Linked DNA regions of Homo sapiens. The protein of the gene in region 2 purifies or fractionates together with the protein of the main gene of each other region. This does not show direct contact. Each region holds a gene or a part of one and is shown on either strand. Other genes may lie near its edges. The genes, in order: MRC2, ECE1 and NRCAM.

Region 1 (3,649 bases), on a different chromosome or scaffold from region 2:
CTGGTCTCGAACTCCTAATCTCAGGTGATTCACCCGCCTCAGCCTCCCAAAGGGCTGGGATTACAGGCATGACCCACCACGCGCAGCCAAAAAAATGTTTTAAACTTAAAAGTATTTAAAAATCTTTAGCTAATGTTTTATACTCTTTTGTTCTTATACATATTTTACTATATATAATATTAGTCATATTAGTATGGAAGTAGGTTTTATTTACACACACATATACATATATAAGTTAAATGTACACACACATAGTTTGGTCATGTAAGCTCAATATTTTGTTTTACTAATAGGAGTTCATTATCAAAATCTTTGATAATCAGGCCGGCAATCAGGCCGGGCGCGGTGGCTCACATCTGTAATCCCAGCACTTTGGGAGGCCAAGGCAGGTGATCACCTGAGTTCAGGGGTTCGAGACTAGCCTGGCCAACATGGTGAAACCCCATCTCTACTAAAAATACAAAAATTAGCCAGGGGTGGTGGCAGGTGCCTGTAATCCCAGCTACTCGGGAGGCTGAGGCAAGAGAATTGGTTGAACCCAGGAAGCAGAGGTTGCAGTGAGCCGAGATCGCGCCACTGCACTCCAGCCTGGGTGACAAGAGTGAAACTCCTTCTCAAAAAAAAAAAAAAAAAATCTTTGGCAATCACTGATCTAGAACACTCACCAAATTATTTGGACAACCTTGCTTCCCGGAGGATTGGAAGGTGCTACTACAGTGAGTCATTTTCCAAGGAGTCTGGCCCTGGTACTGGAGCCAGGTGAAAGAGAAGTTGGTGGGTACAGGCAAGAGGCCATGAGTTTGGTGCTGCCAAAAGGCCAGGACTCCTGAGGCTCAGCCTTTCCCTGTTCACGTCCTCTCCCCTGACTCCCTTGGGTGCCCCATTGCCACCTCCTACCTTGTTGAGGAACTGGATCCAGTCAGAGGGGCAGCCCCCCAGGGCTGTAGTTGGCAGGTCTGGGGGCTGCGTTTCTTTGGTGACGTTGCTGCGCTTGCAGATGTAGGGCAAGGCTGTCAGGCACCTCTGGTCCCCCCAGTCCTCTGCGGAAAGGGGAGGGGAGGGCAGTCACCCCCAGGGCAGAGCAGGGCAGGGCATGGCTGGCAGCACACTCAGCCTCATGCCCTGAGAGGAGTCTGGGCAGAGGCTCAGGGCCTGTGTCCAGCTCCGAATTCAAGTCTTCTGGACCATGGAGACAGGTCCACCCCTCGCTGAGTCTAGCCTTTATTGGGTTGTGGGAACAAAGAGAATGAGAACAGACTGATGACTTCTGCCCAGGCTCGCCCAGCATTAACCCTTTGCACAGCTGACTGCGCACTCTGCCCCCACCTTGCCCTCACCTCGGCTGGCTGTCATGTACACGCACTTCTTGTCCTTGCCGACAGGCCGAGGTTTGCCTGGTGCCCAGGAGATGAAGTTTATAATGGAACCATCTGTCCATCTGCAATGGCATGGAGCAGAGGTAACTCCAGCACCGGCCCCCAGCTGGGCCTCCACCGGATGCAGCAATGAAGGCCGCAGGAATGGGGGCAGGGAAGGGCCCAGGTTCTGGGGTTTAGTGGCTGTAGGCTGAGGGGTGGAGCTACTGAGCTCAGGGCAGTCAAAGACCCAAGGACCTGGTGCCTCTAGATAAGGCCCCAGCTGTCCCTGGACACTTGCTGCTCCAGAAAAGAAGCCTGAGGACTCCAGGGCAGGAAGCCCAAGGGCAAAAAGACAAGCTCAAATTCTGAGTCCCAGGTGCTCCTGGTCCTTCCTGCCTCAAGCCCCCCAGTACATGGTAAGTAGGCACCAAATACAAAGAGGCCCCCGGATCATCATATGTTCTGCCCACTTCCCCGAGAGGGCCTTAGTCATGATGAATGACACCAGACGTAACAGGAGCTGCCATTATTTAGTAACTAATGTGCTGGATGCTGCGTAAGCACTTCGCATATGTTATTTCTAATCTTCACAAAAATCTTACCAGGCAGGCCTCATATTCCCATTTTCAGATGAGAAAACCAAGGCCCAGAAAGGTTAAGTATCTTGCTCAAGGCCACACAGCCAGCAAGGAAGGGGCAGGGCTGGATTCAAATGCAAGTCTGCCTCTGTGCTCCGTGTGTGGACAGCCAGCCCCCTTCCACATCTGCTGCCTGCCTGGGTTCCTACCTGAAGCGCCCATCGCTCTCAGAGGTGTGCAGGCCGATCCACCAGTGCTGCTCCTGGGCCCGGGAGAACTGGAGAAGCCAGGCGGGCAGGTGTGGGTAGGCAGCCCCCTGCCCTCATCCCGGGCCTGCCCTCCCCCAGCCTGCAGCCCCCTGCTCAATCCAATGCCCACCTTCTGCAAGTTGTGGCTCAGGAAGTCTAGCTCCGCCTGGCTGTGCACCGAGGTCAGCTCGGCCTGGAACCACGTGCAGATGCGCTGCGCCTGCGCCCACGTGGAGTGGTGCTCAAAGAACTTGTACTCGGCCTCCTGGAAGCGCAGCCATTCCCGTCGGCCTGCAGGAGCAGCGCGGGCGTGGGAGCGGCGGCCAGGCAGAGGCTGCACGCCAGGCCCCGGAGGCGGGCGCGGCAGGGCCGGGGCAGAGCCAGGCGGCAGCAGGCGAGCCTGCAGGCACACCGGACCCAGGCAGGCACCGTGCCAGGCCCCAGGCCCCAGGCTTGCCTCGCCTCCCACACGGAAGCAAACAGGGCTGTGGCTGCCTCCGTCCGAGCCAACCCCGTCCCCCTTCTCTCGACCGGAACTCCTCATCCCCTCCATTTCATTCAGGCCTCTCGGGACTTACCCCAGAGTTGACGCCCTCTCCCACGCGATGGGTAGCGGGATGGGCTGGGGGGTGCTCACCTTGAGGGCTGTCGTCGGGCTCCCGCACGTCCGTACCTAGGGGAACAAGGACAAAGACGTTGTGAGGAAAGGAGACCCTCCCTGGAATTCCTGGCCCCGCCACCCTTCGCTCCATCCCGCGTCCCCCAGCGCCACTCCGGCCAACCTCTGGGGATCTTGCAGATCCAGTCCAGCTGTGTGTCGCACTGCATGGCCACCCACTGCAGGGAGGCCAGGTCCAGCACCGCACAGCCTCGGATGTCGTCGTCGTCGTGCCGGCTCCGGTCGAAATTGTGGTAAGAGAACTGGAGGAGGCGGGTGGAGGGAAGAGGAACGTGAGGCGCAAGGTGCAGGCCGCCCCCATGCCCGGAACAGGTGAACAAGAGGCCTGGCCTGAGCTGCGAATTCTCACCGGGGGCCGGGTGACCCCTCTCGGACCTGCTTTCCTGAAGCCGGCTCCGACTGGGGGCCCGGCCCTCAAGAAAACCCGCCCACCTCCAGGCCCCGCCCCAAACAGGCCCCGCCCACCAAGCTCCCGGCCTCGCAGTCCCAAGTACCCCAGGCCCCCTCACCCCTACGCCGTCGCTCCAGCGCCAACTCTGACCCCCTCTGGGATCCCGACGGTTCAGGCCGATCCAGAACCAGTGCTGCTCGTGGATCTCGGGTTCTGATTCACTTCAGCACAACCCAGGAGTGGGGACGGAAGAGATGGGAAGTGAGAGGGGCAGGAACCCAAACGTGCCCCCTGTCCCTTGCAGCTGTGACCGGGGCAGCCCCCAGGGCCTGGGGCCTCTCCATCTGGGCTTCACATTGACCCATCGATACAGCGTTGAGGTCACTTCGGTAAAG
Region 2 (3,649 bases):
AAGAAGGAATGGAAGTGGAGAGGAGAGGAGGGCCTAGATCCTAAGGGGCACAGAAAGCCAGGTTAAGAGCCTGGACTTCCTCTTGAGGACTGGAGTGACATGATTAGATTTACCCTTTGGGAAGGGCAGGGTGGAGGGAGCAAGGCTTGCCAGGAAGAGGGGAAGCTGTCAGGGAAGATGAGGAGACTCAGACTCTGACCTGCAACGGCCCCACCAACAGCCTGAGGGGTGCCCCTGGTGCCGGGTCAGAGCCCTGAGGGAGTCCCACCCTGGCACTCGGGGATCTGAAGTGGGTCAGTTGAGGGAAGGGTACTGAGAAGCCACGTGGCCATGGTTAGGTATTTACTGGGCAGGAAATGACTGGGAATTGCTGCACCAGAGATGGAGGAACACAAGCACTTTCTGTGGAAAAAAAAAAACTGGGTTCCAAAACTGAGAAAAGGGGCCGGGCACGGCGGCTCATGCCTGTAGTCCCAACAGTTTAAAAGGCTGAAGTGGGAGGATCACCTGAGGTCAGGAGTTCAAGACCAGCCTGGCCAACATAGAGAAACCCCATCTCTACTAAAAAACACAAAAATTAGCCAGGAGTGGTGACAGGCGCCTGTAATCCCAGCTACTCGGGAGGCTGAGGCAGGAGAATCGCTTGAACCCGGGAGGCGGAGGTTGCAGTGAGCTGAGATTGCGCCACTGCACTCCAGCCTGGGCGACAGAGCAAGACTCCGTCTCGGAAAACAAAACAAAACAAAACAAAACAAAACAAAACTGAGCAAAGGATCTTGGGGCTTAGAGACACTTCCGTGGAGGCCCAGGAGGCTCAGACACTGAAGCAGCTGGGTCAGGCAGTGGGAGGGATGCCGCCCGCTCAAATCCCTCAAGAATCTCTTCTGAAAAAGTGAGCAATGAAAGTTTCAGACCATGAATTAAAACTTCAGGCTGTGAGGGCCTGGTGCAGAGAGAGACAGCCTGGTATGATGCTAACATGTACACTGTACTCAAATGTTTATAAAGTGCTTTTTCAGAGTAATCAGTTATCTCACACACTTTACCTTGGTCTCTGGTACTCAGAGGGGTCCCAAGGACTTGAAGCAGGGACTGCCTTGCCTAGGGACACTGACGTATGTGTCCTGCTGCCCCTAATTTGTTTCATCCTTCCTCCTTTAGGCTTCTCATGTCCCCATTATCATGGCTCAGCTCACAGGGCACAAGGAGGCCGTGAGACAGTGTTTTGTTTTGTTTTGTTTTGTTTTGTTTGAGATGGAGTCTCCCTCTGTTACCCAGGCTGGAGTGCAATGGCACGATCTCGGCTCACTGCAACCTCTGCCTCCCGGGTTCAAGCGATTCTCCTGCCTCAGTCTCCTGAGTAGCTGAGATTACAGGCATGTGCTACCACGCCCGGCTAATTTTTGTATTTTTAGTAGAGACAGGGTTTCACCATGTTGGTCAGGCTGATCTCGAACTCCTAACATCGTGATCCACCCGCCTCAGCCTCCCAAAGTGCTGGACTGCACCTGGATGAGACCTTGGTTTAAGAGGTACCCATCAGCCAGGCATGGTGGCTCATGCCTATAATCTCAACACTTTGGGAGGCTGAGGCAGGAGGATGGCTTGAGCCCAGGAGTTCAAGACCAGCCTGGGCAACACAGTCAGACCCCATCTCTTAAAAAAAATTAAATTAAATTAGCTAGGCATGGTGGCATGCACCTGTAGTCCCAGCTACTTGGGAGGCTGAGGTGGGAGGATTGCTTGAGCCCGGAAGGTCGAGGCTGCAGTAAGCCATGATTGTGCCCCTGCACTCCAGCCTGGGCAACAGAGCAAGACCCTATCTCAAAAAAGTAAAAAAGAGGCCAGGCGCAGTGGCTCATGACTGTAATCCCAGCACCTTGGGAGGGTGAGGTGGGCGGATCACCTGAGGTTGGGAGTTTGAGACCAGCCTGGCCAACATGGTGAAACCCTGTCTCTACTAAAAATATAAAAATTAGCCAGGCATGGTGGCTCATGCCTGTAATCCCAGCTACTGGGGAGGCTGAGGTGAGAGAATCACTTGAAACTGGGAGCTGGAGGCTGCAATGAGCAGAGATCACGCCACTGCACTCCAGCCTGGGTGACAGAGTGAGACGCTGTCTTGAAAAAAAAAAAAAAAAGAAAGAAAAGAAAAGAAAAGAGGTACCCCTGTGCCTGGTGCTGGCTCCAGGGAGCCAAAGGATGCAGCCACTAGGCTTGGGATGCAGGAAAACCTCACCTTAAATGTACAGGGAAATGTCATGGTGTGGGCGACAAGGAGACAGCTAAGAGCAAGGAGCAAAGCCATCTGCGGAGAGAAGGGAGAGAAGAAAGGAACAGAAGGGGAAGATGAAAGAAACAGAGGGATAGGAAAGGGAAAAAAGAACAATGGCAGCAAATAAATACTTGAGTGCTAAGGGCCTGGGATCATATTAATTCTATTTTGATAGTGCAATTCTATCTTCACAACATTATTTTTTTTTTTTTTTTTTTTTTGAGACGGAGTCTTGCTTTCTCACCCAGGCTGGAGTGCAGTGCCGCCATCTCGGCTCATTGCAACCTTGGCCTCCCGGGTTCAAGAGATTCTCCTGCCTCAGCCTCCCAAGTAGCTGGGACTACAGGCACATGCCACCACACCTGGCTAATTTTTTGTATTTTTAGTAGAGATGGGGTTTCACCGTGTTAGCCAGGATGGTCTCAATCAATCTCCTGACCTCGTGATCCACCCGCCTTGGCCTCCCAAAATGCTGGAATTATAGGCGTGAGCCACAGCGCCCGGCCCATAACATTCCTTTTTTTGAATTTTTTTTAAATTTTTTTTTTTTGAGACAGAGTCTCACTGTGTCGCCCAGGCTGGAGTGCAGTGGAGAGGTCTCTGTTCACTGCAACCTCTGTCTCCCGAGTTCAAGCAATTCTCCTGCCTCAGCGTCCCGAGTAGCTGGGATTACAGGTGTCCGCCACCACGCCGGGCTAATTTTTGTATTTTTAGTAGAGACAGGGTTTCACCATGTTGGCCAGGCTGGTCTCAAACTCCCGACCTCAGGTGATCTGCCCGCCTCAGCTTCCCAAAGTGCTGGGATTACAGGCGTGAACCACTGCACCCAGCCTATCTTCACAACATTCCTAAGAGTAGGTATTAGCGTTAGCTCCAGAAGAAACCCAGGAAGTCGGGGCATGAAGGCAAGGAGAGAGGAGAGAGAACAGTGAGGCAACCCACGTCTCCAGGACTGGCAGCCGCAGACCTACCACAGGAAGTGGAGCTGACCCTCACTGTTTGATGCAAAGTGCTGAATCTAAACAGATGGTGTTCACTGCAAAATTAAATTAAAATTAAGCCAGAATTGAATTAAAAATTCATAGTTCCAGGCAAGAATGGCAAATGGAGTTTGAAAATGGAGTTTTTAACCTTTGTCTTGTTCTTTGCTTGACTTGTACTATCGGCTACGGGCCTCATGGTTTCTGGATAAGCCTTGTCTCTAAAGGCAGAACGAATCCAGATGCCTCACCCTGGGGCAGGAGAAGTCACCTAGAGGTACTAGGCCAGGATCAGGAGGCCTCTCCAGGGCAGGGTGGCCAATTCCTGGGTGCAATGGAAAGGGCTGGGCCGTGAGTCAGGGCACCGATCTGCTTCCAATGGCCGCTGGCCTCG
Region 3 (3,649 bases), on a different chromosome or scaffold from region 2:
TTTGTAGAATGATATTAGAAATAGCTTTTTCATTCTGTAAAATGTGGATGATGGCTTTTGAAAAAGCACTATGCTACTTTAAAAGGAAATTGCATCAAAGAGGGACTTTTATCAAACGAAGTGATTTTATAATAGCACATGAACTATTTAGAAAGAACTGGCAACGAACTTGGTGAAAAATCTGTGGTTATGATGAAGAAATGATTCATTGTCAGTAAATGGGTGACACAACATAACAACTGACAGAGACCTTTTCCTTAAGAAACACAATTATGTGACATAGAAAAGAAAGTTATGAATACTTTCTGCAAATGTGAAATTGTTTGACAGAAAACAGAGAAAGAAGACTCATATTAGTTTACCGTAAACGGGAGCTGGAGTTGGAGTAGGAGCTAGAAAGGACATTAATATAAAGGATTTTAATCAAAATTAGTAATGGAAAGATACAAGATAGCACAAGATGACAAAGACTGTACATTATTCAAGGTTATAAAATTAAGCCCTATGCTTAGCTGTGAGACACAGCATTGATAAACATGCAGTAACAATTTAGGAAAAAAAACCTTCAATTTTAGATACAAGTAGATCATTTCTCCTTATTTTATTACAAAAAAGGTTACTAATGTGCATATCCACCATTTCACCCAGTGCTGCTACACAGTCTATTTATACTGAAATTATTGCCTCCAAGGCATCTTTCAAAGAAGAAAAACATGGGTATGAACTCACCCATGCATATTAACAAGCAAATATTTGATATTTATAATTTTTATCTTATTTTTTCTTTTCAACCAAATGCAGGGAAGCCAGTTGTGCTATTTTTGTTTTCGTTCTTACCAACAACGCTAAGCACAGCGCTGGCGGAGACGCTGTCCAGAGTGGTGTTGGCCACACACGTGTAGGTCCCGCTGTCATCGTCACTGACATCAGCTACCACTAGATGATCCTTGTCAACAGTGAACCTGTGGATAGAATGCATTCAGAGCAGCTGAAATGGACATGCAGCCGTACCCTATAATTGCTTCACTGGCAGGAAAAAAACTGTAAATTTGATAAAGGAGAAAGATGGTAAACACTTTCAAAAGTTAGAGCAAAATACATATCACTTTAAGAATGATTAAAGTTGAAAAACAATGAGAATCAATTAGAATATTGGGTTAGAAGGGATATGTCCTCTGGCACAGTATTTTTCAACCAGGCCTCTAGAGCACGGGTCCCCAAACCCTGGGCCAAGAACTGGGTACTGTCCTGTTAGGAACTGGGCTGCAGAGGGGACCGCTGCTCTAGAGGGTGTGGTAGGAGTTTCCTTAGGCCCCAGGGGAATGGGGCGAGTGAAGCTGAGCTCCGCCTCCTGTCAGATTAGTGGCAGCATTAGATTCTCACAGGAAGGTGAACCCTATTGTGAACTGTGCAAGTGAGAGATCTAGATCTAGACTGTGCTCTCCTATGACAATCTAATGCCTGATGATCTGTCACTGTATATATTACATGTAATAATATATATATGTATATACATATTACAACATAATAATAATAGAAATAAAGTGCACAGTAAATGTAATGTGCTTGAATCATCCTGAAGCCATTGTGCCCCCACCCTGTCCGTGGAAAAACTGTCTTCCATGAAACCAGTCCCTGGTGCCAAAAAGGTTGGGGACCACTGCTCTAGAGGGAGAGGAAGGAGCTTCCTTAAGTTCCCAGGGGAAGGAGGCGAAGAATAGTTCCAGCATTAGCCTTACTAAAGGGCTTTACTAAGGCTTTTGCTGCCAAGAAACATTGGAAAACCACTCATTCAGTTCAATTTCTATCAAAGTATATATTTTAAATACTTTATTATTTACTGCAGAAAATCATGTCATTTTCTTACATGTATAAACTCTCATAGGAGAAATTAAATGCAAAGAATAATAATTTGCTTTATCACTAGAAACAGGAAGATTTAGATGAACAATCTCTCTAAGACTTTTCTAGAGGGAACTTGTGGGCATGAAAAATTGCTCAGTAGATCAAAAAATTAATGTATAGAGAATTAGTGTATTATTTTAATGAAACTGCCTAAGTCATAAACTGTCTTCTCAGTTAATTTCCAAGTAAAAGCTTCAGCCACCTTAACCTGATGGTCATTTCTTTATGTTTCCTTTTAATCTTAAAGACAGGGTCTCACTCTGTCACCCAGGCTGGAGTGCAGTGGTACAGTCATGGCTCACTGGAGTCTCAACCTTCTGGGCCCAGGTAATTCTCCCACCTCAGCCTCCCAGGTAGCTGGGACCACAGGTGTGAGACCACCACACCTTTTCATCTTTATCAACTCAACAAATAAAATTGACTAGTTCAAGCATAAAATTAGATGGAGACTCTAGGCACATAAAAGAGAAGGCCACAGAGTTCTTCCAGGGTCATTGACAAGCAACAGGGCAATATTTAGGCACCACAATTTTAGGTCAGCTGTAGGTGAACCACACAAATGATTTCGACCAGAATACAGCATTCCTTCTAATAGAGAGTGAGGCCTATAGCCACTTTGCTAAAACTAACACATATCTACTCTGTACTACTATGTCAAATTGAGGGTCTCATCTGGAAAATGCCATGACCTTTCTTCCATTCTTAATGAAATCTGCAGCATGCTTGGGCTCTTTTAAATGCTCTACCTGTTTTTGTTTTTCCTTCCCCTTTCACTGGCTTTAGGTAAAATCAAAAGAAAAACTCCCTATCCAAATAAAAACGAGTGTCTTAAAATACTGACAAGGATTTGAGCAGTCTTTGGTGATTAAAGAGGTCATATTTCTGCTTATTTGTAGAAAGGTAATGAAAACATCTGTTGAGACTTCGCTGTTCAAGGTATAAAACAATGGATGCTGTCCAGGCCTGAGGGTTTTTTCCCATCCTGAATTACACAAGAGACCAGCACGCAAAGATAGACAAACATTCTCAGGGTCCTATTTCAATCACCTGATACCTTCTTGGGTGCATATATTTTACAGTAGGGAGAAAATGCTTATCTCTCTATTTTGGAGACAGCAGACTTCAGAAACTAAAAACATCACCATAATTGACTACATAGTAGACCTTTAGTTCAAGAATAGCTTAAAGAAAGAATGAAGAGAAAGTAAAGAAATCGTCTTCAAATACCTTTCATCACTGGGCAGTTCCCTGTTGTCCTTCAGCCACAGGACAGTGAGGGATAAGGTGTGATCATGTTTCACTTTGCATTCAAAGGACACCATGCTCCCTCTTTGCACAACTGCATATTCGGGCTGTTTAACGATCCATGTAGGATCTGAAATGTAGAGTCATCGTTATCCATTTGGCAAAGCTGGAGAATTTGTTCAAAGTCATTTAAAAATTAAACACATTACCTCTGCCTTACCTTTGATTTCTAAGTGAACTTCATTCTTCGCCATCCCTAATTTATTCCTTGCAACACACGTATAAGTTCCTGTACTGTCCTTTTGGGCCACAGGAATTTCCAAAGTTCCATTTTCATGTAAAACATAAATATCTTCATGAAGAGCACTTCCTTTAGCTCCTTTAAACCTTCATTACAGAAATTATCACAATGAGAATAAAAACACATTATATTTTGAAGTCAGACATAAAATGCCATGTTCAAGGTCAACATGACCATGATGAATGTGAAAGTTGCAAG

What was found.
Region 1: the proteins of ECE1 (region 2) and MRC2 fractionate together in Homo sapiens (co-fractionation; one large-scale study listed by BioGRID). This does not show direct contact.
Region 3: the proteins of ECE1 (region 2) and NRCAM fractionate together in Homo sapiens (co-fractionation; one large-scale study listed by BioGRID). This does not show direct contact.

The regions. Positions count from the first base shown.
Region 1 is NC_000017.11:62,679,626-62,683,274, reverse strand, and holds part of MRC2 (C-type mannose receptor 2 precursor), read right to left. Parts: intron 3,476-3,649; coding exon 3,373-3,475; intron 3,106-3,372; coding exon 2,967-3,105; intron 2,858-2,966; coding exon 2,822-2,857; intron 2,476-2,821; coding exon 2,315-2,475; intron 2,214-2,314; coding exon 2,146-2,213; intron 1,439-2,145; coding exon 1,338-1,438; intron 1,041-1,337; coding exon 898-1,040; intron 1-897. UniProt on the Homo sapiens protein: May play a role as endocytotic lectin receptor displaying calcium-dependent lectin activity. Internalizes glycosylated ligands from the extracellular space for release in an endosomal compartment via clathrin-mediated endocytosis.
Region 2 is NC_000001.11:21,280,464-21,284,112, forward strand, and holds part of ECE1 (endothelin-converting enzyme 1), read right to left. Parts: intron 1-3,649. UniProt on the Homo sapiens protein: Converts big endothelin-1 to endothelin-1.
Region 3 is NC_000007.14:108,190,892-108,194,540, forward strand, and holds part of NRCAM (neuronal cell adhesion molecule isoform A precursor), read right to left. Parts: intron 3,538-3,649; coding exon 3,371-3,537; intron 3,281-3,370; coding exon 3,133-3,280; intron 963-3,132; coding exon 838-962; intron 393-837; coding exon 363-392; intron 1-362. UniProt on the Homo sapiens protein: Cell adhesion protein that is required for normal responses to cell-cell contacts in brain and in the peripheral nervous system. Plays a role in neurite outgrowth in response to contactin binding.